Linked DNA regions of Homo sapiens: regions 1 and 2 are each linked to region 3. The links come from fine-mapping of genetic effects on plasma protein levels. A gene starts in region 3. Each other region holds a variant in brackets. All regions are shown on one strand. Distances are from middle to middle.

Region 1 (10,093 bases), 97 kb before region 3:
AGGCAGCTCTTCCAGGGTCTTGGAGCCATGCCCTGGAGTCAGGCAAGGCTGGGCTAGAGTTGCCAGTGTCAACGCTCCAGACCCAGCCTGTTTGCTCCTCTGTAAAATTGAACCAGAATGCCAGCTTCAGGGGCCTGCAGTCAGGATGAGGGTGTGTATATGAGGGGTGCTGCTGGGAGCAGCCCGCAGACCCAGGGGCCCTGCTGGGGGCTCTGCCCAGCCTGCCCCGTCTCCAGCCATATGGTCCTGGCTGTCTCAACTTCTCTGGGCCTTATTTTCCTTGACTGTAAAATGGGAATAAGGGTCCCTGCCTGCAGGTTCTACTGAGCAGTTGTGAGGATAAAGGGAAATGGAATCTGTAAAAGGAGTGCCAGCTGGAAAGCACCAGTCAGATGCCTGGGGTATTGGCACAGCTTTACAAGAAAGGCGGCCATCTTGGGAGCCGATTCCTGACACTGAGCACAGCCCGGCGGGAGGTGGGGGCTGCGGCCTGGGCTCGGTGGAATCTCTGCACTGCCTGGCGAGCCCTTCTCGCTCGGCACACCCAAGCAGCGGCATTAAAACCTGGTCCTGAGGCCCAGCTGGGCAGAGAGCCTGGGACCACGGTGGCCTAGACACATCCAGCTGGGGCAGGGTGAGTGAAATTCCAACTCCTGTTCTTCAAAGAGAAAATAAAGAAAAAGGACAGAAGAAGCCCAGTCATGCCACAGCAGGGCAGAGCCCACTCGGTCCAAGATGCAAGAACTGCCCGACCCTGGGGCAGCAAAGGAGCCCGGGATCTGGGGGCTGCTCAGCGCCTGCAGGGCATGGGAGTGAGGCTGGGGCTGCCTCAGGGCATGAGGTCCCTCCTCTCATCTCCGTCTCTGGGGAGTCTGTGGCTGCTGACTGCTTTGGGTCTGTTTAAAAGGAAACGCAGCATCCTGCTGACCAGCACAGGCCAGGCTTTCTGCAGGATTTTGCAGACAATGTAGGAGATGGTCCCAGACTTACCCAGAGCGCTGGGGCTGATACCTGAGCTCAGCGGGGCTGGGGAAACACTCACCCAGCAAAGACGGGGTGAGGGGCATTCCAGGAGGAATCCTCAGTGTGCTGGGAGGCAAAAGGGCATGGCTGGAGAAGGGCTGGCGGGGACACAGCTGGGGAGGAGGCCAGAGTCTGGCTAAGGTGGGAGCTCCTTCCAGTCCCAGACTTCATCCTGGGGTGTTTTCAAAGTGTGTAGGTGTCAATGACTCGCAGGCCCAAACTTTTGGGGAGACCACCACCAGCAAGTAACTTGTCCCTGCTACAAACCTCTGGGCTGGTGACCTCTGCATGTACCTTCATGGGTAATGAATGGACAAATGATAGAGAACATTATGGAGCAGTGTATAGAGCAATAAAGAACAAACAGAATATGGAACAAATGGGTACATTAACAAATGCAGGGTATGGGGAGGAGAGGCAGCCAGAAGAAGGAAGAGAAAAATACCATCGAAACTTAGGAATTCAGACCAATTACTTGAATGGTAGTTCAAATTTGTAAAGTCCGAGTCAAAAAAATACCTGAAAAATTGCCTCTGAATTCTTGATCAGGTAAGGACTGGAAAGAGTGGGCGTTTGTAATGAACGGATAAGAACTCTTTGTTGGCCGGACTCGGTGGCTCACACCTGTAATCCCAGCACTTTGGGAGGGTGAGGTGGGCGGATCACCTGAAGTCAGGAGTTCAAGACCAGCCTGGCCAACATGGTAAAACCCCATCACTACTAAAAATACAAAAATTAGCCAGGCATGATGGCAGGCACCTGTAATCCAGCTACTCAGGAGGCTGAGGCAGGAGACTCATTTGAACCTGGGAGGCGGAGGTTGCAGCGAGACAAGATCACACTACTGCACTCCAGCCTGGGTGACAGAGCAAGACTCCGTCACACACACACACACACACACACACACACACACACACACACACACACACAAAAGAACTCTTTGTTATGAGGGCATCATTTTCAACTGCAGAATGGAGCTGGAGGCCTGGGTGACAGTGGCTATGTCACACACCCTGACGGCTCTCACTTTCCTCATCAGGGTCCAATATGTGTTTGGACAGTGTGGCCCCTGAGGTATGAGCTAGCTCTAAAAAACATCCTTGAGAAAAACATTTAAAAATAAAGAAAAATAAATAAATAAATAGAAAACTTCTTTGAGTCTATCCCCAGAGGAGGCTTCCAAAGCACCTGAGGAGCTGCTCACTGAGCCAGGACTGGTGTCCCTCTCCCCGGGACCTTGTTCAGCAGAACCAGCTGCCTAGCTCTTGTCTTAGTAGATGGTAAAAAGCAACATTTCTGCCAGGTCCCTGCTTGAGAAATGACTAAACTTGATCAGTTCATGAGCCCCAAAGGAACTATTTCCAAATTTTGAATTTATGTGTCCCAAATGAATGGGGTTTGGCCACATTGTAATATATCTCGGGTGGAAACCATTTGTAAGAAATACCATTGTAAATGTTAGACTGAAGAGGTGTTTGTGAGACGCGCGTCCTCCCTGGGGTTTTGCGCAGGCTGCATGGCTCTGTCTGCAGGGCAAGGTCCACCCTGTGCTGTGCTGCCCACGGCTGAGCTCAAGGTGGGAGGGCTCTCAGGTGCCTGCCTGGTGTCCACACCAGCACACCCGTCAAAAACTTTTTCTTTAATTCTTTTTTAAATTTGGAAGGGAACCTCCAGTGAATCATCACATGCATTATTTGATTCATGTTTAATATCTCTGGGAAGCAATAAAAACAATAAATCATTATTAATAAAATGGCCTCAGCCCGGCTGAAACGCTAGGCACAGAATGGTGATGTTCCAGCCGCCCTCGGTGGCCCCAGCAGCTACAGTCTGGAGTTAACTGTTGGCAAGTGACTTATCCATGATCACCCAGGCCTCTGACTCATAGAGAGTGTGTTTATAATCAGGAGTGGGGCAGCTCATAAAAGCCACTCTTTGCCATCTTTAGTCTTTAAATCACAGCACCAGAGGCCACAGATTCTGCAGGGAGAGTTGTGGCAACGCACCCACCCATACACACAAAGTGTAATCAACACGCAGTCACGGAACACCCCTTACATGCAGGCCACAATGCTAAGTGCTGGGAAGACACCGAAGTGTAAAACGCCCTCAGAGCGCTTCCAGTCTGGTCGGGAAAGCAAGACAGGAACTCCTTCTTTCCTTCTCCTACCAAGGTTCAGTTCCTGGCCGGGTGCGGTGACTCATGCCTGCAATCCCAGCACTTTGGGAGGCCGAGGCGGGCAGATTACCTGAGGTCAGGAGTTCAAGACCAGCCTGGCCAAGATGGTGAAACCCCGTCTCTACTCAAAATACAAAAATTAGCCGGGCGTGGTGGTGCGCGCCTGTAATCCCAGCTACTCAGGAGGCTGAGGCAGAGAATCGCTTGAACCCAGGAGGCGGAGCTTGCAGTGAGCTGAGATCACACCACTGCACTCCAGCCTGGGAGACACAGCGAGACTGTCTCAAAAAACAAAAACAACAACAACAGCAAAAGCTTCAGTTCCTGCTCTGAGCCTGGCGCCGGGCTTGGGTGCTGGATGGCAGAGGGAGACAGCATTCCAACATGGACCAGCAGCCTCAAGCCTCCAGCTTCCCAGCTGGGCCCCAGTTCTCTCCTGACCCTTTTCCCAAGGACAGAGAGCTGGGTTCCATTTACCCAGGGTGTGGCTAGGAATAATCCCATAACCAATTATTAGCACAGCGCCTAGAACACAGGAAGCACACAGTAATTGTTTGACGAGAGGCAGGAAGGAAGTCAAGGAGGGAGAGAGAAGGTCCGGGTGATCTAGGCGCTCCTTACAGACAACTTCCAAATCCTCTGCAGATCCGGCCTTGGAATAGTGGATCTTCGGCCACCGCGGCACTGTCTGTGCACCCTCCGAGAGCCCCATCAGACACATTCTAGCCCAGATAGTCTCTAGCCTCAGCAAAAGAGCCAGTTTCCCGGAGACCCTCTGGGGGCCTAGGAACACCCAAAAGAACAGATATTTGCTAAACATCGTCTATGATCCCAGTGATTACTTCTAAGCTAAAAATTTGCACATGGGGTCTGAGAAGTCCAAGAATATTCTAGGGGGTAACTGAGAGAAAACGTGTAATCTGGGCTGTCCCAGAAATACCAGGCCCTGTGCCTGGTGTGGTGCTGGATGCCTGGGGAAGGGGAGCAAAGATCACTGTGGACTCCACCTAGAGAGGCCGGTGACATGGGTGGGGAGGAGCCTGGCTGGCTCGGACCTGGCCTGGAGACCCGGGGCCAGCAGGCAGCAAGGTCAGGGGAGTGTCCTTGTGCAGCCTCGGCTGTGGCTGCCTGTGTGGCTGAGCAGACTAAGGGGCAGGTCAGCCGCCCTTCCTTCCACCTCTGCCTGGCATCTCCCAACCAGATGGGGAGGCTAGGCCGGTCTTGCTCATGTGGGATCTGGATGCAGCCCTTCACACAGAGCCCGACATGGAGCAGATGCTCCGGAGATGCTGACGGCTAGGATTCCCCCGCCAGGCACCTGGCGGTCCTGCAGAAGGGCCAGGACAATGTCCCCAGCCCTCCACCAATTCCAGGGCAGATGAGAATGCCAAGTTGTGCCTGCCCACAATGTGTGTATGTGTGTGCGTGTGTGT[A/GTA]TGTGTGCATGTGGGTGTGTACGTGTGTGCAGGCACGTGTCTGCCCACAATGCTTGTCAGACAGGATCTGCCCTCCGTGGCTGAGGGCTGGAGGGGACGACCACAGGAAGTGATACTGCCAAGTCATCCCAAGTCACCCTAAATATAACCCTCAATGTACAACACAGGAGGATTGTCCCTTCCCCGCTGCCCTGCCTCATGACCAGCGTCTGCCTAGGAGGGCACTTCCAGAAAGGCCGCTCAGATGGCTCTCTGAGATGCCCGCCTGGGATCCACGGCCTGGCCAGCACTAGAGGGGAGGCAAGCCTGGGGTCCTGCTCTTCCGGCCCCAAATCTCCATGGCCCTGTTCATCTAACTTCTTCCAGAAGAATTGTTGGCTACACAAATCACTATGAGCAACAATGATCTCTTAAGCCTGGGAGGAGGCATCCTTATTTAAGGGACACAGAGGGCTGCCGTATGGTGGGGGTCTGGCTGTGCCGAGATGCTGCTCGCACCTGTCTTCCTCAGCGGTCGGGGTTGCCAGCGTCCTGCCCCTCAGGTGTGACCCACTCCGACCTGGCTGAGCCGCCTGCTCGCCCCCTCCTTGCCACGGGTGCACGTCTGCCACAGGCCCTTTGCACCAGCTGCTCCTTAGCTAGAAGCACGCCCGTCCCTGACCTCCTGCAGGCCTTTGGTCAGGTCTCATCTCAGGAAGGCCTTCCCCAAGCACTCTATCCAAAACCGACACTCATTCTTTATCCCCTTTCCAGCTTGATCCTTTCTCTCATTTCTGTTTTGTTGAGTTCACTGTCTGTCTCCCCTTGAGTGGAGCTCAAGGTCCTTGGGGCCAGGTTTACTCTGGTCTGTTCTCCATCAGAAGCCCAGAGCCTGGAAGCTTGTCTGACACAGGGTACGTGCTCCATGAACCCACCTCAAGGGAAGGAACGCATGAGTGTCTGGGGACGTGGAGAGGGAGGCTGGTAGGGGAGGCTGGGACTCGAGCCTTAGTATGCAGGTGCTGCTTCTCCACTGCCCGGGGAGCGGCCTGCTGTACATGACCAAGGGCCAGGGGCAGAGAGAAGCGGAAGGCCCTTCCAGTGCCCATCACCTGACCCACAACATCCACGGCCAATGGTGTGAATGTGCTGGAAAGTGCCTTCTGATCCCAGAGTCCCTCAACTCGTGGTGGTGGTGGTGGCGGTGGCGGTGGCGGTGGTGGTGGCGGTGGCGGTAGTGGTGGCGGTGATGGTGGCGGTGGCAGTGGCGGTGGTGGCGGCGGTGGTGGTGATGGTGATGGTGGCGGTGATGGTGGTGATGATGGTGATGGTGGTGGTGGTGGTGATGGTGATGGTGGTGGTGGTGGTGATGGTGGTGGTGGTGGTGGTGGTGGTGATGGTGGTGGTGGTGGTGGTGGTGGTGATGATGGTAGTGGTGGTGATGGTGGTGGTGGTGGTGGTGGTGGTGATGGTGGTGGTGGTGGTGGTGGTGGTGATGGTGGTGGTGGTGGTGATGGTGGTGGTGGTGGTGATGGTGGTGGTGGTGGTGGTGATGGTGGTGGTGGTGGTGGTGGTGGTGGTGGTGCAGTGATATTATTTGCTGTGCGTGCACTGAAATGCCCCAGGGGTCTGGGGATGGGAATGGACACCTCGGACCACCTCCTCTACCCTCTTCTGATCTCTTCGCCTGCTCCAGCTTCTTGACACGGGTATCAGCCTCAGCACGACCTGCCGGGCCAGGCGCCTCCCCTGTGCACCCGTGCTGACAGTGGCCTCGGGCCAGGACATTTGTATGCAGGTGACATCCAGGTAACACGGACCCAGATGTTCCCCCACTCTCTAGCTCCAGTAAGGCTGGTGGATGGAGAATGAAGGAGTGGAAGTGGCCCCTTCACATGCAGTTGTGTCTATTTTCTGCTGAGAAAAATACTTTTTTCTCAGCTAACCACACGCTAACTGGCACCCTGAGGCTGAGGCCCCAGCCTGGATGTCTCCTCCCAACCCAGCAGCTACTGTGGCAAGGAGAAAGCGGAAGGAGAAATCGCCTCCCTCAGGAAGAGGAAGGCAGGAAAACCCACCCCACCCACGGGATGCAGATCTAAGGGCGGGGCAGGGGACGGGCAGAGGGTGGGGAGCTCACTTTGCCCTGGAAACACCACGTGCGTGCGTTGGTGCCCAGCGGGAAAGCAGCCACGCCCGGGGTCTGCCCTGGGCCCTGGGCTGACCGGCTGCGGGACTCACATCTACCAGGGCCACAGATGAAACCTGCCACTGGTATCTGCCCTCCACCCCTCACACAGCCCAGAACCCCATCATGAACACTGAAATTAAGACAGTGATGCTTTAACAGGTTTTGGGTCCAAATTTTAGCCTGGCTGAGTATTCAAAGGTGGTTCCTTCTGAGTGGGAAGATGAAAATTATAAAGAGCATCTCCCGTGTCTAGGGCCAAGAAAATTCCAGACTTTTGGAAAGCGACTTTGTATGAGGACTTGGAGGACTTTAATCCTTATACAGGACCCTGCCAAACTCACCAGATGCAAGTCGGTGATGAGGGCTCTCAGGGGCTGGGCATGGCCAGATGGGGCTCTGTCCCCAAATGTCCCTCCCCCAGGTGTCCCCCCGGGAGCCTATGACAGCTGACCCTTGCTACATCCATGGCCCCAACTGATGCTCACAGTATGCAGGAGCAGGTGGGGCAGGGTGGTGAGTGACAAGAGTCACCATAATAGTCATGAGACCATGAGAGGGAGGAGGGAGAGAGAGGAGGAGCTGTGGGGCAGCCAGGTCCTGCTGGTCCAGATACCACAGGGACACTTCACTCCAGGTCTGATCTCGCATTGACCCTGAAGAGGGTGTTTTTATCAACCTTAATATGCACGAGATTGGAAGGGGCTGTGAAGAGGCACAGCCAGAATTACACACTCTCCAGCATCGCATACCTGGTTCCTTGCTTACAAACAAAACCAAACCCTCAACGCTGGAAGGGCAGCCCCACAGCATGGCTGGCAGGCTCTCCAGACCCGAGGGCAGCCCCGGGACATGGCCAGGCCTTCCTGTCTCGGGAGCTGGCAGGATGACCAGGGTCATGAGGAGCCCTCCCGAGCTCACGGAGTTAGCTCAGGCAGGGCCAGGAAGGATTCCGGATGGAAAAAGCCCCTAAGCCAGGCTAACACTGGGGGAGAGGCGACCAGTGGCCAGGCCAGGGTGGTGCATTCAAGCTGTAAGCACTTTGCCCTCCCTCAAGCCTTCCTCGCACCCAGAGCAGGCAGGGGCCTGGGGGGCTGCAGGGTGGCGGATTCAGACAGACCCTGGGCCCGGCAGCCTACGGTAACTGCTCTGAGGGGAGAGCCACATGCCCAGCTCCCAGCGCAGACAGCTTATCTGGCGTGGGTGGGGGTCCAGAGGGCTGAGTGGCCCTGACCATGCACAGGAGCCTGGGAGAAGGAAGCTTCCAGGTACAGGGGCTGCAGGGGATAGAAGACAAAGAAACCCGGACACTAAGACAGTGCCCTCCTTGCCCTCACCCACACGTCCTTCTCAAAGTTCTGGGCCCCTCATTCCCCTGACAAATCGCCAAACAGAAGCACCGAAGGTCACGCGATTTACCCAGAAAGACCTGGCCAGCTTAGGGCGAGAGCTGAGATGGCTGTGGGGCCTGGGGGGCTGTTTCTCTGCATTTCCGAGCCGCAGTTTCCTGACCTGTCTAGGGGTGCTAGCTGGGCTGCCCCCCACGCCCAGTCTTCCCTGCTCTTTCTGCTGAGCTGGGTCCAGTCCCCACACATGGGCAGGACCCCACGGCACAGCAGGAGCCACCCACTTCCATCCTCAGTCCTCACCCACCCTGAGCCAGTCGGCCTCTGGGAGTGACTTACCAGAGACCAGGCGGAGGCTGAGAGGGAGTGGGTCAGAACCTCCAGGGAGTGTTTCCGCGTCCTGACTGGGCCACTAGACCATGCCCCTGGAAGAGAAGAGCGACAGGTCACGCAGGCTGTGACGACCCGGCCCGGAGCCCATGCCCCTCCCTCTGGTTGCTTCTGTGGTGCCTGCTGGGGGATCACAGTTTTTGCAAGTGCCATGCTACATACAGAAAGCCCTGGCTCCCGGCCTCCGGCCAGCCACCATGGACAGGGGCACATGCCCAAGGCCGCTGCACCCCAGCAGGCGAGAAGCCCAGGACAACGTTGATAGAAGCCCCAAGGTAAGATGCTGGCCACCCTTCGAGTGAGGTTGCTGGTTACTACAAAACTGGCATGGAAACTAAGTGTGGCCGGGACCTCTGTGGTCCACAAACTCAGGTTCAAATCCCAACAGCATTGTCACCTGGGGCCATCACAGACGCACAGCCTCCGTCCTCACCCAGCACTCTACACTCTGCACCCAGGGCTGTTACGAGGGTTCAGTGGAATCAGGCACACCCAGGCCTGCCACCCACGACTGTGCCCTGCTCCCTTCAGGGTCTCTCCAGCCTCCACGGTTTCTTGACTGGCATACCTGGGTTGGCCCCTCATCACCCGACCTCCTCCTTGAGGCCCACATTGCCCCCAGCATGCCTCCTGGGCCCAGCACAGGGCACACACTAGGTGCTCAGGAAGAGGTCAGGACGCATCACCTGACATTCAGCCCGCAGCTCAGCTCAGAAAACCATCCAGAGACTGAGAAGGAAAATTTGCATTGCGGGTGTCTAGGTGCTCGGCCACTCCCACCCTCAACCCTCACTGCCAGCTCTGGCACAAGCGTTCCAAGCACCTTTCACGTGGCGTGAACTCGGGACGGGCCCGCCTCCCTCTTCTCTGCCTGCTCCCCGGGCATGGATTGGTGACTCCTCCTCCGTGAACCTGCAGCCTCTGGTACATATGTGTATTAACAGTGTTGAGGCCGACAGCTCTATACAACCAGGCTCCTTGCTAAAGGCTGTCTATGCATTTGTACTCATTATCCAACGTAATCCACACAGCAGCCCTGGGAGGCAGGCACAATCATCATCCCCATTTGACAGACGGGGAAAAATGGAGGCTTACAGGAGCTAATTACCTGCAAGATCATGTGTCTTCCAAGGGGCCGAGCCAGGATGGAATCCTGACAGTCACTTCACCTGACGGCCCGTTTCTCTTCCGCATCTACCGCACACTCCCTAATTACTTTCTCCCAACGCAAGGTTCTCTCTCTCATAGCAACGATCCCGCTTTACAAGCACCCACTAGACGAAGTGGCTTGTTCACCCTAGAACACCCAGCCTCAGCACAGTGCGGCGTGCCAGCGGGGCTCCCCTCGCTCCTGCACAATGGGGGTGCTGCACCTCTCCCCTCCTTCCACCCACCCACCAACCCACCCCCCTGACTGTGAGCGCCACAAGGTCAGGAAATCGTCCGTTTCACGTCTATGCGTCCAGAGCCTGGACACAGCAGGTGCTCAACAAATAATGTTTGACAAATGAATGCCCCCGAGATGCATCACGTGTGATTGGAAATAGGGTGTATC
Region 2 (10,093 bases), 130 kb before region 3:
TTGGCTTATCACCAACTCTGGTCTCCCTGGGCCAGGGTTGCCAAAACATGAAAGATTTTTTCAGGAGCCAGAGGTTGGTTCTGACTGGAGGGGGAGGGCGGGAAGGAGTGCTGTAGTCCACAGCCCTACCTTCCGGGAGCCTGAGAAGTAGGATGCTGGTGTGTTTGGGTAACTCTGAGCTCCCCAACAAGGGCAGTTCCCTGGGATCCGGGACCCACTATGTTAAGAGAGTTGGCACTGAGTATGTACTGTGTGCCAAGAAATTTGAGCTAGACACCAAGCCTAGAATCTTGGTAAATTAGGTCTTCCATCTTAAAAAGGAAGAAATTCCCGAGATCGCTTAGTGGCAGTGGTGAGCTTGGACTGAAAAGGGGGGTATTCCACTCAAAATCAACTAAGGCTTTGGAAACAATGCTCTTTCAGCCAGTTAGGGAAAATGTAATCCAACAACGGTCAGTAGTGCCAGTGGGGACAGAAACAGCCGCAGGTAATCCCGTGCTACACGTGAGTGGCCCCTGAAACCTCGCTTCTGACCACAGCTTGGCGTAGCCACTTACAGGCCCCAACAAAGCCAGACTTGGGTCTGTGAAATGATGTGGCCAGGCTTGATCAAGTGATCTTCCTTGGCCCTTGTACATGGGAGCAGGCAGGCGAATTTGGCAGGAGAGACCAGAGAACGAGGACAGCCAGACGGTAGCCGGGGCTGTGTCGACACCAGGCACCGTCCTCCAGGAGGCTTAAGTCCTGCTTTGCATTTGGGTATCTCCACGTCATTTTTAAAGATGGTGCTGTCTGGTCGTGCACAGATACTGGGCATTTCTAGACTCGTGACTTGAAGTGAATACAGCTCCACCAAGACCACTTGTGAATTTCTTCCTGGCGTGCTGGCCCCCGGGAGAGGGGATTCAGGGGAATTGAACTATTGGGCAAAGGTAAAGGCAGCCAGAGTGCATTAGAATCACTTAGGGTGCTTCTTAAAAATACTCATTATTGCCCCCTGACCACTTTCCCCAGACTCTGGGGATGGAGTAGTGTTGGAGCAACTGGAGAACCATCTGGAAGACATAAAAGTATCCCCAACTCCTGCTCCAAAATACATTCCAGATAGATGAAAGTTTTAAATATAACAGATTAGACCATAAACCTACTGGAAACAAAGTCAAAAGGCAAGGGACCAACGGCTACAATGCCCGTGAAAAGGACTAATTTTCTTCATATTAAAAACAACAAATCAATAAAGTAACTATGCAATAGAAAGTGGGCAAGGCATAAACTTGGCTCACAGTAAAGTTTTTTTTTTTTTGGTAGGCAGAGTCTCACTCTCACCCAGGCTGGAATGCAGTGGCACCATCTCAGCTCACTGTAACCTCTGTCTCCCGGGTTCAAACGATTCTTCTGCCTCAGCCCCCTGAGTAGCTAGGACTACAGGTGCATGCCACCACACCGGGCTAATTTTTGTATTTGTAGTAGAGACGGTTTCACCATGTTGGCCAGGCTGGCCTTGAACTCCTGGTCTCAAGTGATCCACCCGTCTCTGCCTCCCAAAGTGCAGGGATTATAAGCATGAGCCACCACGCCCAGCCAACAGTAAACTTTTTGAACATGAAGACATTTGTCAACCAAAGGAAACACACAGTAAAACTATGAGAATCTATTTCTCACCTATCAGATTGGCAAAGACAAGAGTTCCCCAGCTCGCGGGGTGAGCAGGTGTGCTCAAGCACTGGGCGGAAAAGTAAATTAGAGCAACAGTCTCTTTGGAGGGAACTTGATAATATCAATAATCCACATTATCTTTGACCCAGCAGTTCTAAGAATTTCTCTGATGATACTCTTCTAAAATTATTCATTGTGGCATCATTTGTAAACAATCTCTTGTACACAAGCAGGTACTGATGAAATTGTCAATGGAACGGGATATACAGTGGTTAAGGAATGAAGCAGATTCATCAGTACTGATAAGGAACAAGCTCCAAGCTAGATTCAGTGAGGATAGCAAAGCAAGGGGCACGTGTAGTATGCTACTGTGTGTGTAAAAAGCAAAATCAAACCCCAACAAACTGTGTGTGTACATACATACTTGCATATGCATGGCATATTTCTGGAAGAGCTTGTAAGAAACGGGTAACAGAGGTTGCCTCTAGGCAGAAGAACCAGAGGCCTGGGCCGAGAGTGGGGACTGGCTCCACACTGCGCTTTTGATATTGGAATGTATTACTGACTTTACGAGGATTGTAAAATAGGTTTCCCGCGTGAAGACATAAACTCAGAGATGAACTCAAGTCACGCAGATAGTGAGGCAGCATTCAAGCCAGGTCAGAGGACCCCAGCATTCATTCGGTGTTTCCCTACCCTGGGAACATGCTGTTAAGCAGCTGGAGGGTGGCTTGGGCAGTGGACTGGCTCAGGGGGACATGGTAGAGTTGCTCACGACCTGGTCCTCACCTTTGCAGGGTCCAGGAGGGCTGGCTCATGCCAACCCAGCTCATGAGGCCGACGAAGGCAGCAGACCCATCAGAAGCCAAAGATGGGAACATTCCTGGCACATCAGCAGGTGGTCAACCCCTCCCTCCCCGACAGTGTCAGGGCCAGGCACTGCCCCTCACAGATAGCCTGCAGCAACCAAGGGCAGGCCAGAAGCCGGTGGGCAGAGCAAGCCACGTGTGCCCCCTGCGGCCCTCTTGAGCCCTGGCTGATGCCCACTTTGCACTTTCTCGTGGGTAGGGCCTGCCCCTTCCCGGGCCTCACTCGGCTTGTCTTGTGAAGTCATGTGCTCGTCACACCCCAGCAGTGACCTCTGCTACTGGGACCACACATCTCTTCGCAGGTTCCCTCCTTACTAGATTTTCCTAAGTGACTCGAAGTGGCTGGCTAGCCCCTTCCGCTTAGGGGGTTTTCTGGCTGTCACCCTGTACCCTCTTTGACATGGGCCCTCCCCCATGCTGGATCTGGGGGTTTGCTTTGCACCATCTCTGGGCCCGGCTGGAAAACTGCCCCTGAAGGCAAGAGTCGACCCATTTCAAATCGGGCTCTGTCCCCACCAGGGATTCCCGAGAAGCCTCAGTGCCTGGGGGTGAGGGGGGCAAGTGGGGGGCTCTGCCTTCTCCGCCTCACCCAATCTCACCCATCGGGTTTCAAGGTAGGACGTCATGTGAAGCAAAGGCTTTGCAGAGTTCTCCCAGTTCTTGTTTTTTACAGATGGGATGAAGCCCAGAGAGGCCAAGTGACTCGTCCAAGGCGAGTCTGTAAGTTAGAAGGAGGGCCTGGGTGTCCTCAGGGCCCTGCCTCGCCAGCCAGCTTCTGCTCCTGGGCTCTTGCTGAACAATGACCATGACTAGAATGCGGCATCCTTCTCTCACCAAGGGCAACGTGTTCCCGGCCCCTGCTCTCTGCCAATCCTATTCCCTGCCAGGGTGGCAGAGGCAGCCCCGAGCACCCATGGCTCCGGAATACCACAGACGGTGGCACCTGGCCCTGCATTCCTGCTGTGGCTTCAGCTTCGGCTGGAGCTGGACAGACGAAGCTGGACCCAGGCCCCACACCTCACTAGGCACTAGCCAGACCCAGGCCCTATGCCTCACTAGGCACAGGGGTCCCCACGGCCGCCTCCTTCTGAGTGGGGGTTGAGCTGGTGCCCCCCACCCACGGCAGGGCAGCTACAAGGGAGGATTGGTGAAGGCCCGAATGCAGGGCACAGAGTGGAAGCGCCTCCGGAATTCTTGCTGCTGTTGGGAGTTCGGAGAATTTTATCCACATGCAGCACTGACTCCAGGCTGGAGAGGGCTGTGACCAGGCGTGCTCTGCCACTGGCCAGGGGTTACCTAGGTGGAGCTCAGTCAGGTGACTTGTGGAGCTCAGGCCCGTGAGCTTGTGAGCTGGGGAGCGGGGGTCTCCAGGCTGGGCCAGCTCGGGGGTGGCTCCGCAGGGGAGGAGACCTGGTGCCCTGCTGGGCGAGGGTCAGTCTGGGCCTGGGTGGTTCCGCCAGGAGGGTCATGCACCTGGCCCTGGGGGTGCCTGTCAGAAGGCCTGGCCCTTCCAGCTTCTCACCCGCCCCAGGGCTGTGCAGGCCCCACTCCCTGGCTTCTCAAGGAGGGTTGCCAGACTTAGCACAAAGATAAGATACTGCACGGGACATATGTCAGCTGCAAAATTGCTTCTCGTTGATCTGAAATTCAAGTGTAACTGGGTGCCCTGTATTGTATCTGGCATTCCTATCTGGCAATAAGGCCTCTGGTCCTGGGTACCGGGAGCCTGGCCTCAGCTTTTGTGTGCCGTTTGGCCCACCACAAGTCAGGGGCTCCTCTGGGCCTCAGCATCCTCCTCTGTCATCAAATGCCGCCCAGGACAGAAAGCTTTTCTCGAAAGCAGGCCCAGCTGGAACCCGCACACCCAAGCCCTGGATGGCCCTCCTAGCTATGGACACCAGGGGGCAGCAGCACCCCGCGGTGGCAGCGCGGTCGGGGCCAGGAAAAGGC[A/G]GTCAAATCACTCGACCACTGGGCAAACACTGATAGCTCCACTATCGCAGGGGGCCCTTGACAGCCACAGGGCTGTGAGACTGGAGCGTGGCCTCGATCCAGAGCTCCCGACTCAGCCACTCCAGGGTCCCGGGGGCTTTGAGGAAGGGGCACCAGGCAGCCCAGTCCCCGACCAGACCACTCCCCTGACCCCCAAAACACTTCCTGAGGCCCCCCAGGTGAAGCCCCCAGCCCAGCCCCTGCACCCCTGCCCCATGTTGTAGAACCAGCCCTGTGTACAGCTGGTGGGGCCCTGCAGCCTTGGTCCTGCCTGTCCCCCTGCCCGTCCCCGAAGTGGCCCCAATCCCCTCTGAGGTGTTCCCAATCCTCCCCTGTGCCCACCAGCGACTGGTGACCCCACCCGGCCTCCCCTGACCACCCCCCATGATAGGCTGAGTGGGCGGAGGGCAGATCTCCCCCCGCCACCCCTCCTGTGGGGCTGGTGCCTGGCACCTGTCCCTGAGCCAGAGGCAGAGCCCACCTGAGGCTGCCTGTGCCGCCCTCCCCATCCCCCACACACTACCACACATGCAAACACACCACACACATCCACAGCGCACACTAAGACCACATGCCCCAGCCTCACACACACCCCACAAGACACCCGCACACATGGCTCCCATGCTCTGCCATCCCTGCCAGGGTGCCTGACCCTAACCCTGGGGCCCCCACCTTCGGAGGTCCCCAGGAACCTGGAGGTCAGGTCCTGCCCCTGAGGACCCTTGCCATTCCCCTCAAGGCCCTGCAGCCCCTCCCTCTGCCCCTGGTTCCCTGACCACATGGTTTACAGATGAAGACACAGCGCTTGTCCAGTGCCAGGCGGCTCATTCGAGGTGGAGCTGGGACTTGGCCTGGGTCTCAGTGTGTGTCCAGGGCATAAGCTCATGCGGTTCCAGCTGCGTGAAGACAGAGCAGAGCCACCTGCTGACCCTCCCTTCATTCATTCATCCCCACTCATTCCTGAGCAGCCTCGCAGGGCTTCAGGGTGGAGACGACCAGAGTAATTTGATGAGGTCACCGAAGGCGACCTCTGGAGGAGGGGACATGGAGGCCTAGGACAGGCCTGGTGCAGGGAAGCTCAGTGTGGAGGGAGGCCACTGTGGGCCCAGGTGGGCCAGGAAGGGGAGCAGGGTGCCCAGAGCCCAGGCCCAGCCTCTCAGGCCACGGAGACAGGCACCCCACCTGGCCCTCCTGGAATGAGCTGTCAGGGCTGCCACTCAACAGCCTCATGTGGCACTCCAGAAGCCACCCACCTGTGGACTCGGGTCCACCACAGCACACGCAATGCCACACACACACACACACACACACACACAGTACAGTACACACCACCACACACATTCACAGCACACGCAATGCCACTCACACACAGCACACACCACCACACACATCCACAGCATACACAGTTACACCATGCCCCACACACCATGACACACACAGACACACATGCATCCACAACACACACATGTACACATAGTTACACCATGCCCCACACACCACCACACACGCAAACATACCACACACATCCACAGCACACACACAGTCACACCATCCCTCACACACCACTACACACGCAAATACACCACACACATCCACATCACACAAAGTCACACCATGCCCCACACACCACCACACACGCAAACATACCACACACATACACATCGCACACACGGTCACACCATGCCCACACACCACCACACATGCAAACACACCACACACCTCGACATCACACACAAAGTCACACCATCCCCACACCATTCCCACACACCCAAACACACCACACACATCCACAGCACACACTAAGACCACATGCCCCAGCCACACACACACCCAAGACAACACACAGACGCACACACACACACCTAGTGGATGAGCCCGCTCGAGCCCGGAGGGCCTGGCTGCAGCTGGAAGAGGCCGTGGGCAGGTGGCTCCAGGGCGGGCCAGGGTCTGCCTTCCCGTGAACTGCAGGAGGCAGGTGGCCCCTTCAGGTCGGGGCCCCATGGTACAGTCACACAGCCCGCTGGGAAGAGCCGGAGGAGCTGAGGCCTTCCAGGGGCCCTCCAGGGGCTGCCGCCCCGCCCGCCCCCGCTGGCCTCAGTCACCCCTCCTCCCGAGCTCCCTCCCACCCTCCCCAGCCTCCTGCCCCAGGCAGGCTGTACCCGCCCCCGCAGCTCCTGCGCCCCGGCAGTGCCCTGCTGTGCCATGCCCCGCGCTGGCCCTGGGGAGGTGTTTGCTGGATAAACAGCTGCCCCCCGGGGCCCAGGCCGCAGTGCTCCTTCGCCACCGTGTCTCCAGCATCACCCCTTCTCCTCTGAGACCTCTTCCCAGGCCACAGTAAGGGAGCCCCAAGCCAAGGAGAGGGCGTGCCCAGCTTAAAGGAAACTGACCTTGGCCCTGCCCTACCCCGCCCCACTCTGGGCCGGGATACATCGCTGCCGACCCGGAGCCGGAGCCCAGGACCAGCGGGCACCAGGCCCCTGCGCCGCAGTGGCGGGGTCAGAGCGGCAGGACTGGGTGGCTGGTGACAGGTGGGACTAGCGCGGGACCACTTGCCTCTCGAGCCGAGCCCCGCCCCTGCCCCACAGCTCCATTTTCTTCTTGTTCCTTTCAGGGCTGCCAGGCTGCCCCAAGCCGGAGTCTGTTCCCCGACGGCCGAGGCTCCCGCTGGCTGGCAGCTCCCCAGGCGTGTGGGTTTGATTCCCAACGGCGCCCAGCCCAGGGCAAGGCGGCTGGGGGAAGGCCACGCCACGGATGAACCCAAGGCCGAACTCCTGTTTTTCTAAATACCTTTTCCGGGGCCCACGAGGTCCCTCTCAGAAGCCTGAAGGTCCTGTGGGTTCTGTCTCCTCTTGGGGGGCTGTGATCCTAACTGGACCCCCGTTTTGGGTCCCTGCTCATGCGCACCCCTGATCTCAAGAGGCAGATAGAAGATCTAATGACGTACCTGCCTAAGCCCGGCAAGGAGGGGAGGGTTCCATTCGGAGTCCAGTGCCCCGCCCTGAGAAACGGGCGCTCAGGAGGGCGCCCCTCAGGCAGTGGTGGGGAGGCGCGCCCCCTTCTCCACTAGGGCGTGACCTGGCACGGGGTGGGGAGGGAGTCAGGCCTGGGTGCCACAAATACAGTGCGTTTAAGTCTTGTTCAGGGACCCAGGGAGAAACTCCTTCATTTCTCTAGACACCAGGGGCCCTGAAGGAGGCCGCTGGCAAGGAAACATGGACCCGGCTCCAGCCCAGCTACTGGAAGACCTTTCTGGAATCGGGAGAAGACGCACCTCGGACTTGGGAGCTGATCCTTCTTTCAATTCCTGATTCTGCCACCTCTTGCTAAGGATTTCAGGCTAGTTACTTAACTTCTCTTAAACCAGCATTATCAATCTGTATAATGTGGTAGTGATACCACATTGCAGGGTTGATGGGAGGGTTAAATTAGACGTTTAAAGTTTTAAACAGTGTCTGTACGTGGAAACCCTTGATAAATGGGAGCTAATGTTTTGCTAGCTCAATGCTGGTTCCCACGCGGGAGGCCAGTCTACCCAAGCAGAAAATGCCTGGGGCTGTATTAATTAAGGCCTAAGGTTCAGAGTAAGGGAGGTGACAGTCTTGCCCTACTAGGGGTTCATCGTGGCCTGACTAGATGAACTGTCTTGGGACTAACACCTCATACTGCCACCCTTCCCTCCACACTCCAGGGCTTCCTTCCTTCGAGTCTAAACATTTTCCTGTCTCAGGAGTTGTTCCCATTACCCTGTATTTACTCAGTGAGCATGGGACACCATGCAGTGAGTGTCAGGACAGCTGGTGGATGGGACCATGGAGCCACCGGAGCCATTTTCCAGAGTTTCTGTTGAGTCCACCCACATAAGCCTTGCTTATGCAGGTACATGATTAGATCTTCTATCTGTCTATAGGATAAGGGACACTTGTATGCAACTCCCAAGGAACTTTAACAACTTGGAGTGCCCGTGCAGGATGGCAAAGGGTCTGGGATCCCCTGGGGCAAGGAGAAGGCAGGACAAGAGAGAAGCTTGCAGAAGGAGGTGGTTGGAGGAAGAGGAAGCAGGCCCAGGGCCAGTACTGCAAATTACCAGGGAAGGACAGGTGGAGACACTTTCTTTCTTTTTTTTTTTTTTTTTGAGACAGAGTCTCTGTCACCCAGGCTACAGTGCAGTGGCACCGTCTCGGCTCACTGCAACCTCCGACTTCTGGGTTTACGCCATTCTCCTGCCTCAGCCTCCTGAGTAGCTGGGACTACAGGCGCCCACCACCATGCCCGGCTAATTTTTTATATTTTTAGTAGAGACGGGGTTTCACCGTGTTAGCCAGAATGGTCTCGATTTCCTGACCTCATGATCCACCCGCTTTGGCCTCCCAAAGTGCTGTGATTACAGGCGTGAGCCACCGCACCCAGCCGAGACACTTTCTAACAACCCGCCCTGAAAGATCCTGATCCCGGACAAAGGAAGAGACTGAGGAGGCCTCCTGCTGGGTGGGTGGCATGGACGACAGTTTTGGGTTCACTTCTGGGTTCTTTCCTCCTCTGATAGGCTGGGCTTCTTGGCACAGGGACACCATCTTTGGGGTTCAATTCCCTGCCTTCCCAGAGAGCACTGGACTCCTGGACAAATCATACTGGCTTCTGTGAGCTCCTTGTAGGGCAGGGTCCACTAGGATCCCCATATCTACCTCCTCCATATCTGAGCAGAGGTGGTTATAATGGTTAATTTTATGTGTCAACATGACTGGGCCAGGGGGTACCCAGACATTTGGGCAAACCGATTATTTTGGGTGTGCCTGTGAGGGTGCTTTTGGATGAATTTGACATTGGAACTGGTGACCAATGGGGGAACCAGGTGGGGTAAAGCAGATCCCCCTCCCCAATGTGGGGGTCCTCATCCACTCAGCTGAAGGCCTGAATAGGACAAAAGCCTGAGAATTTGTTCTTTGCCTCACAGTCTTGAGCTGGGACATTGGCCTCCTCCTCCCTTAAGATTCAGACTGGAACTACACCATTAGCTCTCCTGGGTCCCCAGCTTGCTGACCTCTGTCTACAGGGGACAGGGCTGCTTGTCTCCTTGGGACCTCTCAGCCTCCATAATCACGTATAAGCCAATTCCTTATGATAAATACATCTATCTAACCATCCATTCGCCTACCCATTCATCCATCCATCCATCCATCCATCCATCCATCCATCCACCCACCCGCCCACCCATCCATGCATCCACCCTCCCATCCAACCAATCACCCACCCATCCATACATACATACATCCACCCACCTGCCCACCCATCCACCCATCCATCCAGCCACCCACCCACCAACCCATCCATGCATCTACCCACCCACCCAACCATTCACCCATCCATCCATCCATCCATCCACCCACCCACCCACCCACCCATGCATGCATCCACCCACCCACCCAACCATTCACCCACCCATCCACCCATCCATCCATCCACCCACCCACCCAACCATCCATCCACCCATCCATCCATCCATCCAGCCACCCATTCATCCATCAACCGATCCACCTAGGGACCCATCCACCCACCCACCCATCCACCCATACTCCCATCCA
Region 3 (10,093 bases):
TAGGTATCAGAAGCACTTACTGCGTTAAGAGAACAAACCAAGGTTTGGTGGGGTTGGGGAGGCAGAAGACAGTGGGATGATGAAATCTGCGTTTTAAACTGGGAAGTGCTGCCGGTGTGGCTGGAGTGAAGGAACTGGAAGCATTCTCTGGGCCAAGGGCAGATAAGGCTCCGCTGTGCCGGAAGAGTGGGTGTGAGCCCTCAGAGAGGGCTGACCCAATTAGATGGCAAAGTGAAGACAGACAAAGAGCTCCAAAACTCTCCAGAGATTTCAAGTGAAGACAGAGAAAGAGCTCCAAAACTCTCCAGAGATTTCTAGCTTTAACAAATGAGTAGATGAGACGTGTTGACCATAATAGGTAGGAGACACAGCTTCAGTGAGGGAGATGTGTCCTCGGCTCTGTTTTGATGTGGAACAGCTCGGAGCCCACACCTAGTGTTAGGTCTGCAGCTCAGGGGGACAGCTCAGGTGTATATCTATATCACCTGCCAATGCACAGATGTGGGCATAGGTGAGTTCAGCCAGTGCACCTGGGCAGGTAGAAGGAACTGTCCTCTAGACATGCACTTAATATCATGCCTACCTGAGAGGAGACCTCACTTGCCTAAGGGGACACAGAGCAAGGAAAGATTTAAGCTAGGGCAAGAGAGTACTGAGGCGAAATCTGGGAAGACTTCCAAGAGGAGAACCACGCACCACCCAAAAGCCTTCTTCCTTTTTTCAGGGTCACAGCAACCTTATCCATGCAGTACGTATTTAACAATCCTGAGTTTTCTTAGCCAAGGGTCAGAGACCCATCCCTTGCTGGAGAAGACCTCTTGTCTCATGCCACAGGTGGGGCTAAGACACCTCCACCCCCAGGCTCCTGGCTTCCTGCCAACTTGGGTAGTACCTCAAGCACCAAAAAGATCCAAATACCCAGACAACCCAGCTGCGGGATTAGAAGCATTCAGGGTGCACTTGCTTCTTAAGGTAAAGGCACACAGCCCCAAGAAGTCATCTTTCCTGCCCTGCTGCTGGCAGAGGAGGGTGGCAACAGGAAGAGAGTGGAGGTCTCTGGGAAGGATTTCTTTAGTTCGTCATGCCTCCGATGTGAAGCTTTGCCTCTGAAATTCAATTTTACTTGAAACAACATGGCCAAGGTAGGGCTCTTTAAAGGATTTACTGTGCTTTTCAGATGATTTAAAAATCTTGAGACTTGCGCCCTGCTCATCAGCATCTAAGAAATGTTCCACCTGTCAAACCGTATTGATTACCTGAAGTCATATTACAATCTGCACCACTAGATTCCAACCATTTTTTAGTCTTTGTAGAAAGTGATTTGAAGAAACCTTTTTTCCGTAGGGTAACTGGCACCAAAAGAGCCCCTAAGCCCATGCTGCTGTCTCCATATACAGCCACCCTCTGTCATTCCCAGATTAGAAACTCAATCTAAGGGGAAAAGCACAAGAGCTACCTGACATTCACAGATGTGCAGCTTTACATGAGGACATAAGAACGACACAGAAACCCCCTGCTACCATAGGAGAGCAGGGAGCCCCAAAGTAGAGTGTGATTAAAATCTACAAGTGTCTGCTCATCCTAACTCCAAACATGCCTCCCCCACCCCCCAGCACAGTGACATCAGGTGCTGACAAACTAGCAGAATACACATAATCCCCCATCAATCCTGGCCTGGCAACTCATCAGTTGAACGCATTATCCCACAATGAACAAGCACGGTTTAGGGCTTGCTGGAATGCAAAATTTTAATACAAACCTAACCCCAATCTAGATAAAAATTCAGCTGCCAAGTAGCTTAATCTTCGGTGCCAAATAAACTCCGGGGCCCCCGTTAGTACCCTGGATTATCACTGGTTCATGAGTGAGTGTGGTACTCTACCACTTATGAGTAGCAAAAAGGGTCTTAGAATAAGTGTCACAGGGAGACAACTGCTCTGACGCACACTCAGCAGGGCATGCACTGTACCCGCGCTGCAGACCTTGGAACTGTGCTTGCAGAGCCCTGAAGGTAGGGGGTGTGAGCACCAGCGCTTCAACAGGAGGAAACAGCTCCAGGGTGAAATGGTGCTAGGTGAGTATGGGGCGCCTGGCTGGGGCGTTTGCACCAAGCGAAGTCCAGTCCTTGTCCTTCCATAGACTGCACTTCTAATTCTGCACAGCCCTGTGGCCAGAAAGGGGACGGAGTGTGTCCACGTTCTTGTATTTCACTTAGAATCTATCTCTAGGAGGGCTTGTTGGAAATAAATGGGTCATTGGCTGGAGTTTGGGCAAATCTCTGTTCTTCTGGGGTTTTGACTTGTTCTGGTTTCTCCACAGATCAAAGGACCTTCCATTTATTGGATTCCAAAGACAAAGTCTCCCAAATTGTTATCACACATTGACATTTCTGTTCCACCTTAAAAACAGCATGAAAGTGGGACGCAGAGGGAGCAGGCAAGGCTAGAATGTGCCACCGTGGCACCACATCCCACCGCAAGGGAGAGGCAGGGCCCCCGGGCCTTCCCTTTGCCACATTATCCAATAAAACCTCAAGAGCTCAGTAATTACAGGCACTTTCAAAAGTGAAACAGAAATAGATCTAAGGCCAAAACACTGGCTTGCTTGAGACAAAGGGCTGGCTTTAACTAGAAAAAAACAAAAACAAAACAAAACACAAACCTGGGTTTGGGTCTGTCTTCTGAGCTGAGAAAGCCAGACTGATTTTTTTTTTAATATTATTATGGAACCTGATTATGAGGAAAGAGTAGGATTCACACCAAAAGCCCTTTTTTCTTGTAGGACATAAAATCATTTGATGAAACAGAAAACAGGGTGCATTCTAAGTGTGCCCCTGTCACTAAGTCAGGATGAAAAATGAGAAAATGAGTTCATCGCATCCCCCTGGCCTGCCATGGCTAGGATTGCAGGGCTTCAGTCTCGGCCGAGGGAAACCAAAGGAACCGGACCAGGTTTCTATCCCTGGCTCCTAAAAGCCCGCAAAGCAGCCCGCCTCTCTGGGAACACCATCACGTAGCCCCTGACAGTTGGGAAGCGCATCCATACCAAAAGGCCGCCCATGCTGTCCCCTCCGCAGCCCAACCCCATGCCGGCGCTCCATTTTGAGAGCCTCCTGCACTGGTGAGATCTTGGCTCCCTTGGTTAAAGGCGATTTTTTTCCCCCAGAGAAAGACACCAAGGCGATGAAGGGAAAGAATATCCTTCGCTCTGGCCGAGAGCCACCCGACCCCTAGAGCTGGCCTTGCTGCGTCCGAGCCAGCGCCGAGGCGCCAGAACTCTCCAGAGAGTGAGTCGTGGTAAGAGCTGGGTGCTCGTTCACTGCGGTTCAATTTTACGACTAGTAGGTTTCAAAAGTAAATGTTTTAAATTAAGGTGTGGGACTAGGAGGAGGTGTCCCATGTGGCACCCCCGGCATGAGGCTGGCTGCAAGGGAGCAGGGATGGCAGGGGCTGGGGCTGGGGGTTGTCTAATGCCGAGGCCAGCAGCTGGACTCGGCGTCCCTGGCAAACATCCTCCTCTGGTGGAATTGGGGTCAGCCAGGAGGAAAGGGGTGGCCTTTGGCGGCCGGGACACCCCGGGAGCCCGAGATCTGCATGTGCGGGAAGCGCCAATTTTACGCCGTGACTCTCGGACTCCACGAGCTGAGCTGCATCCTCCCGGACTAGGAACTTGTTGAACCAAAGGGTTCTCAACTCCGCAGTCGCTGCCTCCCGGCCAGGAGAGGGACCCCCACGCTTGCGCGGGAGCCTGGGGGCTGGGGCAGGGCCGGCGCCCAGCGCGGCGCTCTCGGGCACTCGCGGAGGCGGCGCCGCCCGGGAGGTGCTGCAGGAGGCAGCGCAGCTGGCAGCTAAACTTTCTCGAATCTCAGTGCTTCGCGGTTAAGTTAGGGCCAGGGAGAGGCACAAAACACGCCCGGGGAAAATGTAAGGCCCCACCCACGATAAAGGGGAAAAAAAAAGGATTTTAAACAGGAGACGCTAATCCAATTAACACAGTACCTACTGTGTGCGGGGCTTTGGACCAAGAGCTGTCTTCAGTGCGTTCTCATTTCACCTGTCACCACAGCCCCCAAGGGAGGAGCTGTCCTCATTTTAAAGAGAAGCAAACCGCGACCGGGGAAGGTGGCGCGTCTGGCCCAGGTCGCAGTGCGGGTCGCGGGGAGGCCAGGGCTCTCCTCGTCGCCCCATGGCCCTGGGAGGAACGAGCGGATCGCCTCCGCGTGGGCCCCCACCCTTGGCAGAAGCTCACAGGCGACCCACGTGGGCCGCACGGACCTGTTCCCTGAGGGCTGCCCAGCCTGCCCGCGAGGCCCGCCCTTGCCCGTCGGGTCCCAGCTGTCCTCGAGGCTCCTAAGCTACGCACTGCGCCGACCAGCAGGGACAGGGGGCTCTGGGCGTGGGGCTGGACCACCCACACCCACCCCGCCACCCCGCTCTGCGCACAGCTGCTCACACACGACACCCGCCAGGCACCGCTCCCCACCAGCAACTGCGCCCCGACACACAATTCCACAAACGCAGTCCAAAATGTGCACACCTAAGGCACACATGGATGCCCACGAGTACACGCCATTCGAAAGACACACCACCGTCCGCAGTCACCCACAACTCCACCGCGCAGAGAAACGCGGGCACTCCCGGACACACACACGCGCGCACAACACACACGCAAAGAGCCGGATCGCAGCGCTCGCCGGTGCACACGCCGGGTGCACACGCCCGGGGCACACTTCAGCAGCCAGCAGACCGCAGCCCGCCCCTTCCCTACCTGCTCCGGCGCAGGACGCGGTCCGCCGGCTTCCCGAGCCCAAGTTCGGCGCCGGCGGCGGCTGCAGCGGGCCCGGGCCGCTGCCCGGGACAAGCGCGCCGAGGCCGGGAGGAGTGACTAGCAGCGCGGGCCTCCGTGCGCCCGCAGCTGCTGCGCCGGCCCTGCGCTCATCGCCGCCCAGAAAGACAAAAGGAAGCCGGCAGCCAGGGAGGGAGCAAGGTGGAGGCGCCCGTCAGTCCGCCCGTCCGCTGCCCGCCGCCGCCGCGGCCCGCCTGCCAGCTCCGGGAAGGAAGGGACGCGAAGGCGGGACCTGGAGGCGGGACCCGGAGGCGGGGGCCGGGGCGGGGCGCGCGGCCAGAGGCGGGCGCTCAAGTTTCCTACGGCCCCGCCCCCTCCGGGCCCCGCCCCCTCCACGCCCCCTGCCGGACCCTCAGCGCCCGGCTCGGCCCTCGCAGCCCCTGCACCTCGCTGCTCCTCGGCCCTCGCGGCCCAAACCTGGCCCTGCCGGGTCCCAGCCCCCAGTGGCTTTCGGGACAGGGGCGGAGCCGGGCACCGGTTCTGTTCCCCTAACCCTTGGCCTCTGGCCTGCTGGTATAGAAGAGGCCGAGAGGCGGCGCCCGGGAGGGGCCAGCCCTGCGCCCGCGCCCCCCGCCCCCACGCCGCAGGAAGTGGCCCGGGCGGCCTAGGAAGGGGAAGAGCCGAGTTGCCCCAGCCCCGCACCCCCAGCCCCAGCCCCGCGTGCAGCTCGCACCCCTTCCCACGCCTGTTCGGGGGAGAGCCCCGGGCCTGGAGTGGGAAGCCTGGCTCCAGCTCTGGTTACCTGCAGTGACTCCCCAGGCCGTTTAGGCGAGTCCATTGGGCCGCCTCTGCCTCGGTTTCCCCACCTAACCACGGAAGGTGCTCCTCCCTTCCAGGCATCTGTGGTCTTCGAGCTCCACGCGGGAGAGGCGCCGGTCTGGCACCTCCTGCCCAGGGTCGGCGCCTCCTGGCTCTCGGGGAGGGGGGCATCCTCCATCCCCTGCACCTGCCTCGAGAGGAACCAGGGACAGAGCACCCCCACCCCCACCAGGAGCTCCGGAAAAACGGCTTCAGAAGAGCAAATATACACACACACCCACCTCCCGCCCCAAACATCCCCGAAGAAAGGTAACCACAGAAACAGCCAGAAATGTGGAGCTGGGCGATCGTATGAGGCTGAGACAAAACTGTCTTTCTAGCGTCTCTAGGGGAGAGCTTGAATCCCTCCTTCCACTCCTCCTCCACGGAAAACAGAGTGAACTCCTGCTACAGAGGCCGCCAGAGCAACATGCAAGACCAGCTTTGAGGGGAGCGGGCACAGGGCCTTGCAGGGAAGGTGGGCCGAGCCCAGACCCCTCATTCTTACTTGGCTCTGAAGGCGGAAAGGCAAAGCTAGACCTCGAGGAAGTTCCCCTCCCTGTGGGCCCTACAGTGAAGATTACATGAAGGCATGTGGGCGGTGGACCAGAGTGCACCGACTGATGAAGGCGGCCCGGTACCCGCGGGTGCCATGCCTCCTTCTTAGCCAAGGCCACTCTAGCTCCCCGTGAAGTATCCAGGTAGAAGGCTGGTGGGGTTACAGGTGAGAAGCCGTCGGTGGGGTCCAGGAGCCAGGCCTGGGGAAGCACACGTCACTTCCACCCACATCCATGGGCCAGAAGTAGTCGCACAGTCCCACCAGGATGCAAGGGGCTCTGGCAGCTGTGGTCTTCATGAGTGTTTCGGAAGTAAACAAAGCCGGTTTGATGAACACGTAGAAACATCCCTGCCACAGAAACTGAGCAGATTTCTCCCAAGCACACACAGGGCAAAGGGGCAAAGTCTGTCCACAGACTCACAGGAAGGGAGGTGCATGGCAGACACAGGCAGGAGGTGGGGTTGGGGTGGAAAAGTTCAGGGAGGGCTCAAAAGCAGACCAAGGCCTGTTTCTGAAACCCAGCCCACTCACTGGTTCCTCCACACTTGGCCCATGCTGTTCCTCTCCCATGTGACTTTTCCATCTTCCCCCTCCAACCTGTCACCCATCCATCCTTCAAAACTTAGGTCAGTTAGCTCTCACCTAGCCCTCAGCAGCTTAGCCCGCAGATGCTTCCTCTGTTTCTGAACTTCTAGAGAAACACACTTAACCGCAGACCTCTTATTCCAGGAGTGTATCTCTCTCAGATGAGATACAAGTTGGTCCCTTCCCTTGCGTCCCTCCTGTTCCTTCAAGAGGAGGACTGTCTACCCACCCCGAAGCTTCATGGAGAGAGAGCACACCGTCGTTATTCAATATGTAGTTTTGAATTTAACTAGAGCAAAGAAGAAAGCAAATTCAGGTAAGATGTTGTATAATTTCCTGGGGCTAATGTAACAAGCACCTCCAACTGGGCAACTTAAACAACAGAAATGTGTTGTTTTGTAGCTCTGGAGGCTGGAAGTCCAAGATCAAAGTGTTGGCAGGGCTGGCCCCTTTGGAGAGATGTGGGGGGCAGTTTGTTTCATGTCTGTCTCTTAGCTTCTGGTAACCTCATGCATTCCTTGGCTTATGGATGGCCATGTGCGCTCCCTGTGAATTCACATCTTCTCTATATACCTGTCTCTTTTCCCTTTTCATAAGGACACAGTCATTATTGGATTAGGGCACACCCTAATGACCTCATCTTAACTTGATCATCTGTGCAGACCCAATTTCCAAATAAGGTCACATTCACAGGTACCAAGGGTTAGAAGTTCAGCATCTTTTGAGGGAAACAATTCAACCCATAACAGGTGTCATGCTAGATAAACAATTTGTTTTTCATATGATGACTGTAAACAAGACAGAAGTAATTCTGATTGTTCTTAATATCTGACTTAGTTTTATGACAATTTTTTTCTAACTTTTATTATAATATACACATAACATAAAATTTATCATCTTAATCCTTTTAAAGTGAACAGCTCAGTGGTATTAAATACATTAATGATGTGCAACCAGCACCACCATCCATCTCCAGAACTCTTTTCATCTTGTAAAACTGAAACTCTATACCCATTAAATAATGACTACCTCTCTAATACCTTACATAAGTGGAATCATACAGTATTTCCTTTTTGCAACTGGATTATTTCACTTAGCATAATGTCCTCAAGATTCATCTATGATGTAGTGTATGTCCAAATTTCCTTCCTTTTTAAGGCTGAGTAATATTTCCATGTGTGTGTATACCACATTGTGTTTACCCACTCGTTTGTCAAGAAATCATTGGGTTGCATCCACATTTTAGCAATTATGAATAATGCTGCGACGAACATGGGTGCACAAATATCTTTTCAAGATCTTATTTTCAGTTGTTTTGGGTATATACCCAGAAGTGGAATTGCTGGATTATGTGGTCATTCTATTTTTAATTTTTTGAAGAAGCATCATAATAATACTTTCCACAGTGTACCATTCTACATTCTGCCAAACAGTGCACAGGGTTCCAATTTCTTCACATCCTCACCGCCAGCACTTTGTTGTTGTTGTTGTTGTTGTTGTTGTTGTTGTTGTTGTTGTTGTTTTTGAGACGGAGTCTTGCTCTGTCACCCAGGCTGGAGTGCAGTGGTGTGATCTCGGCTCACTGCAAGCTCTGCCTCGTGGGTTCACGCCATTCTCCTGCCTCAGCCTCCCGAGTAGGTGGAACTACAGGCGTGCGCCACCAGGTCTGGCTAATTTTTGTATTTTTAGTAGAGACGGGGTTTCACCATGTTGGCCAGGCTGGCCTCCAACTCCTGACCTCAAGTGATCTTCCCACCGCAGCCTCCCAAAGTGCTGGGATTACAGGCGTGAGACACCGCACCAGCCCGATTTTGCTTTTTGATGCACCAAATTTTTATGAAATCCAATTTGTCTATTTTTCTGTGTTGTCTGTGTCTTTAATGTCATATCCAAGAAATCACTGCCAAATCCAACATTGTGGAGATTTTGCTCCAAGTTTTCTTCTAAAAATTCTATAGTTTTAGGTTACTTTTAGGTCTTTGATCTATTTTGAGTTAATTTTTGTATATGGTGTTAGGTAAGGGTCCAGCTTCATTCTTTTGCATGTAGATATCCAGTTTTCCCAGCACCATTTGTTGAAAAAGCTGTCCTTTTGCCATTAAGTGATCATGGCACCCTTGCCAAAAATCATTTGACCATATATTCAAGGGTTTGTTTCTGGGCTCTCTATTCTATTCTATTGATCTATATGTCAAGCTTTATTCCAGTGCCACACTGTTTTGATTACTGTAGCTTTGTGGTAAGTTTTGAAATCAGGAAGTGTGAGTCCTCCAGCCTTGTTCTTTTTCAAGATTGTTTTGGCTGTTCAGGGCCCCTTGAGATTCCATATGAATTTTAGGATGGGTTTTTCTATTTCTGCAAAAAATGTCATTGGGATTTGGACTTTATTGTTTCTGAAGTACCTTTACATACACTATCTCCGACATTCTAAAGATTGTTTCCATATTTTACAGATGAGGAAAGCTATACTTGGAAAAATGAAATGTCCAAGGCCACATATTAGAATCAGCAACAGCCAGGTTTAACAGCCAGATTCAGTGTCATTGTGCTGGGCCCACACAGGCTCTGGAAGAAATACTATTCTTTTTTTAATTCCTTGTAGCACTTTAATACTTGAGTGTATATCCACCAGGGAGAATCTTGCAAATAACATTGTTCCAGCGCACAAACTCCTGCCCCAGAATGTTTGAGGAAGTAGAGGCTAGCTTGTTTCTAGGTACTCTTTTGATTCTATTCCCCAGTTTCATTTGTAATTACAGAGTGGAGAAATGCAGCTGCTGGGAATAGCATGGGTGACGCTGACTTAGGGTAGAGGCAGCATCTCTGGCCACCCAACCTTCCCCTGACCCCAGGAGCTCACAGGCGGAGGAAATGCCCTGATAACTCCCCAGCAGCAGCTGCAGCAGGAAACCAAAGCCGTGCCTGGAAAGGGGAGAGTTGGAAATTTACCATGACCAGTCAGCCAGCAGAATCACTGGATCCTGCCTCAAATCTGTAGATGGACCAGAGCTGGGAAAATTGGATCATTAGGTCAGCTTGTTTATCCCTGAGGCACGCTGTTTTGTAACCACTCCTGATACAGATGCTGTGGCCCATGGCTCATCCAGGAAGTGTGACTCAGAGGCAGGTTCCGATGCCACCCCCCCACCCCCGCTCTTTCCCCTTCATCCTTGCAAGCTCAAGATAAACTAAAATATCCCCTCCCCTGCTGTGGACCACCACCACCCCAATTCCTTTGTTGAAGCCCTAACCTCTAATGTAATTGTATTTGGAGATAGGACTTTTAGGAGGTACTTAACGTTAAAG

Direction of the effects. Alleles are on the strand shown, and positions count from the first base shown. The strength of an association depends on the size of the effect and on how common the allele is.
For the plasma level of the protein whose gene starts at base 5,041 in region 3, allele GTA in region 1 goes with a lower level than allele A (weak association).
As copies of G replace A in region 2, the plasma level of the protein whose gene starts at base 5,041 in region 3 goes down (weak association).

What was found. PIP is the posterior inclusion probability: the model's chance that the variant is causal. The UK Biobank Pharma Proteomics Project read protein levels with antibody pairs (Olink). The fine-mapping took linkage between variants from a reference panel, not from the people measured, so its PIPs are less certain.
Region 1: its variant is fine-mapped to the plasma level of the HPCAL1 protein (UK Biobank, PIP 0.93).
Region 2: its variant is fine-mapped to the plasma level of the HPCAL1 protein (UK Biobank, PIP above 0.99).

Annotation. Positions count from the first base shown.
Region 1 is chr2:10,395,315-10,405,407 of GRCh38, reverse strand. It overlaps HPCAL1 (hippocalcin like 1), which reads right to left. Exons shown (of 5, transcript NM_002149.4): 2 at 8,488-8,573. Among named protein-coding and RNA genes, the nearest start is that of SNORA80B, 46 kb to the left of the region's middle. The variant A/GTA (reference allele first, on the strand shown) is at 4,636.
Region 2 is chr2:10,429,453-10,439,545 of GRCh38, reverse strand. LOC124907732 (a long non-coding RNA gene) reads left to right here and starts at 6,733. Exons shown (of 2, transcript XR_007086214.1): 1 at 6,733-6,848; 2 at 7,689-7,960. RefSeq lists enhancers at 4,303-4,352, 4,997-5,961, 5,962-6,927 and a silencer at 6,622-6,681. The variant A/G (reference allele first, on the strand shown) is at 4,476.
Region 3 is chr2:10,297,852-10,307,944 of GRCh38, reverse strand. It overlaps HPCAL1 (hippocalcin like 1), which reads right to left and starts at 5,041. Exons shown (of 5, transcript NM_002149.4): 1 at 4,768-5,041. LOC101929691 (a long non-coding RNA gene) reads left to right here and starts at 5,228. Exons shown (of 4, transcript XR_922791.3): 1 at 5,228-6,367; 2 at 6,932-7,103. RefSeq lists silencers at 4,147-4,326, 4,645-4,842, 4,727-5,506, enhancers at 4,407-4,466, 9,728-10,022 and a cis regulatory region at 9,521-10,093.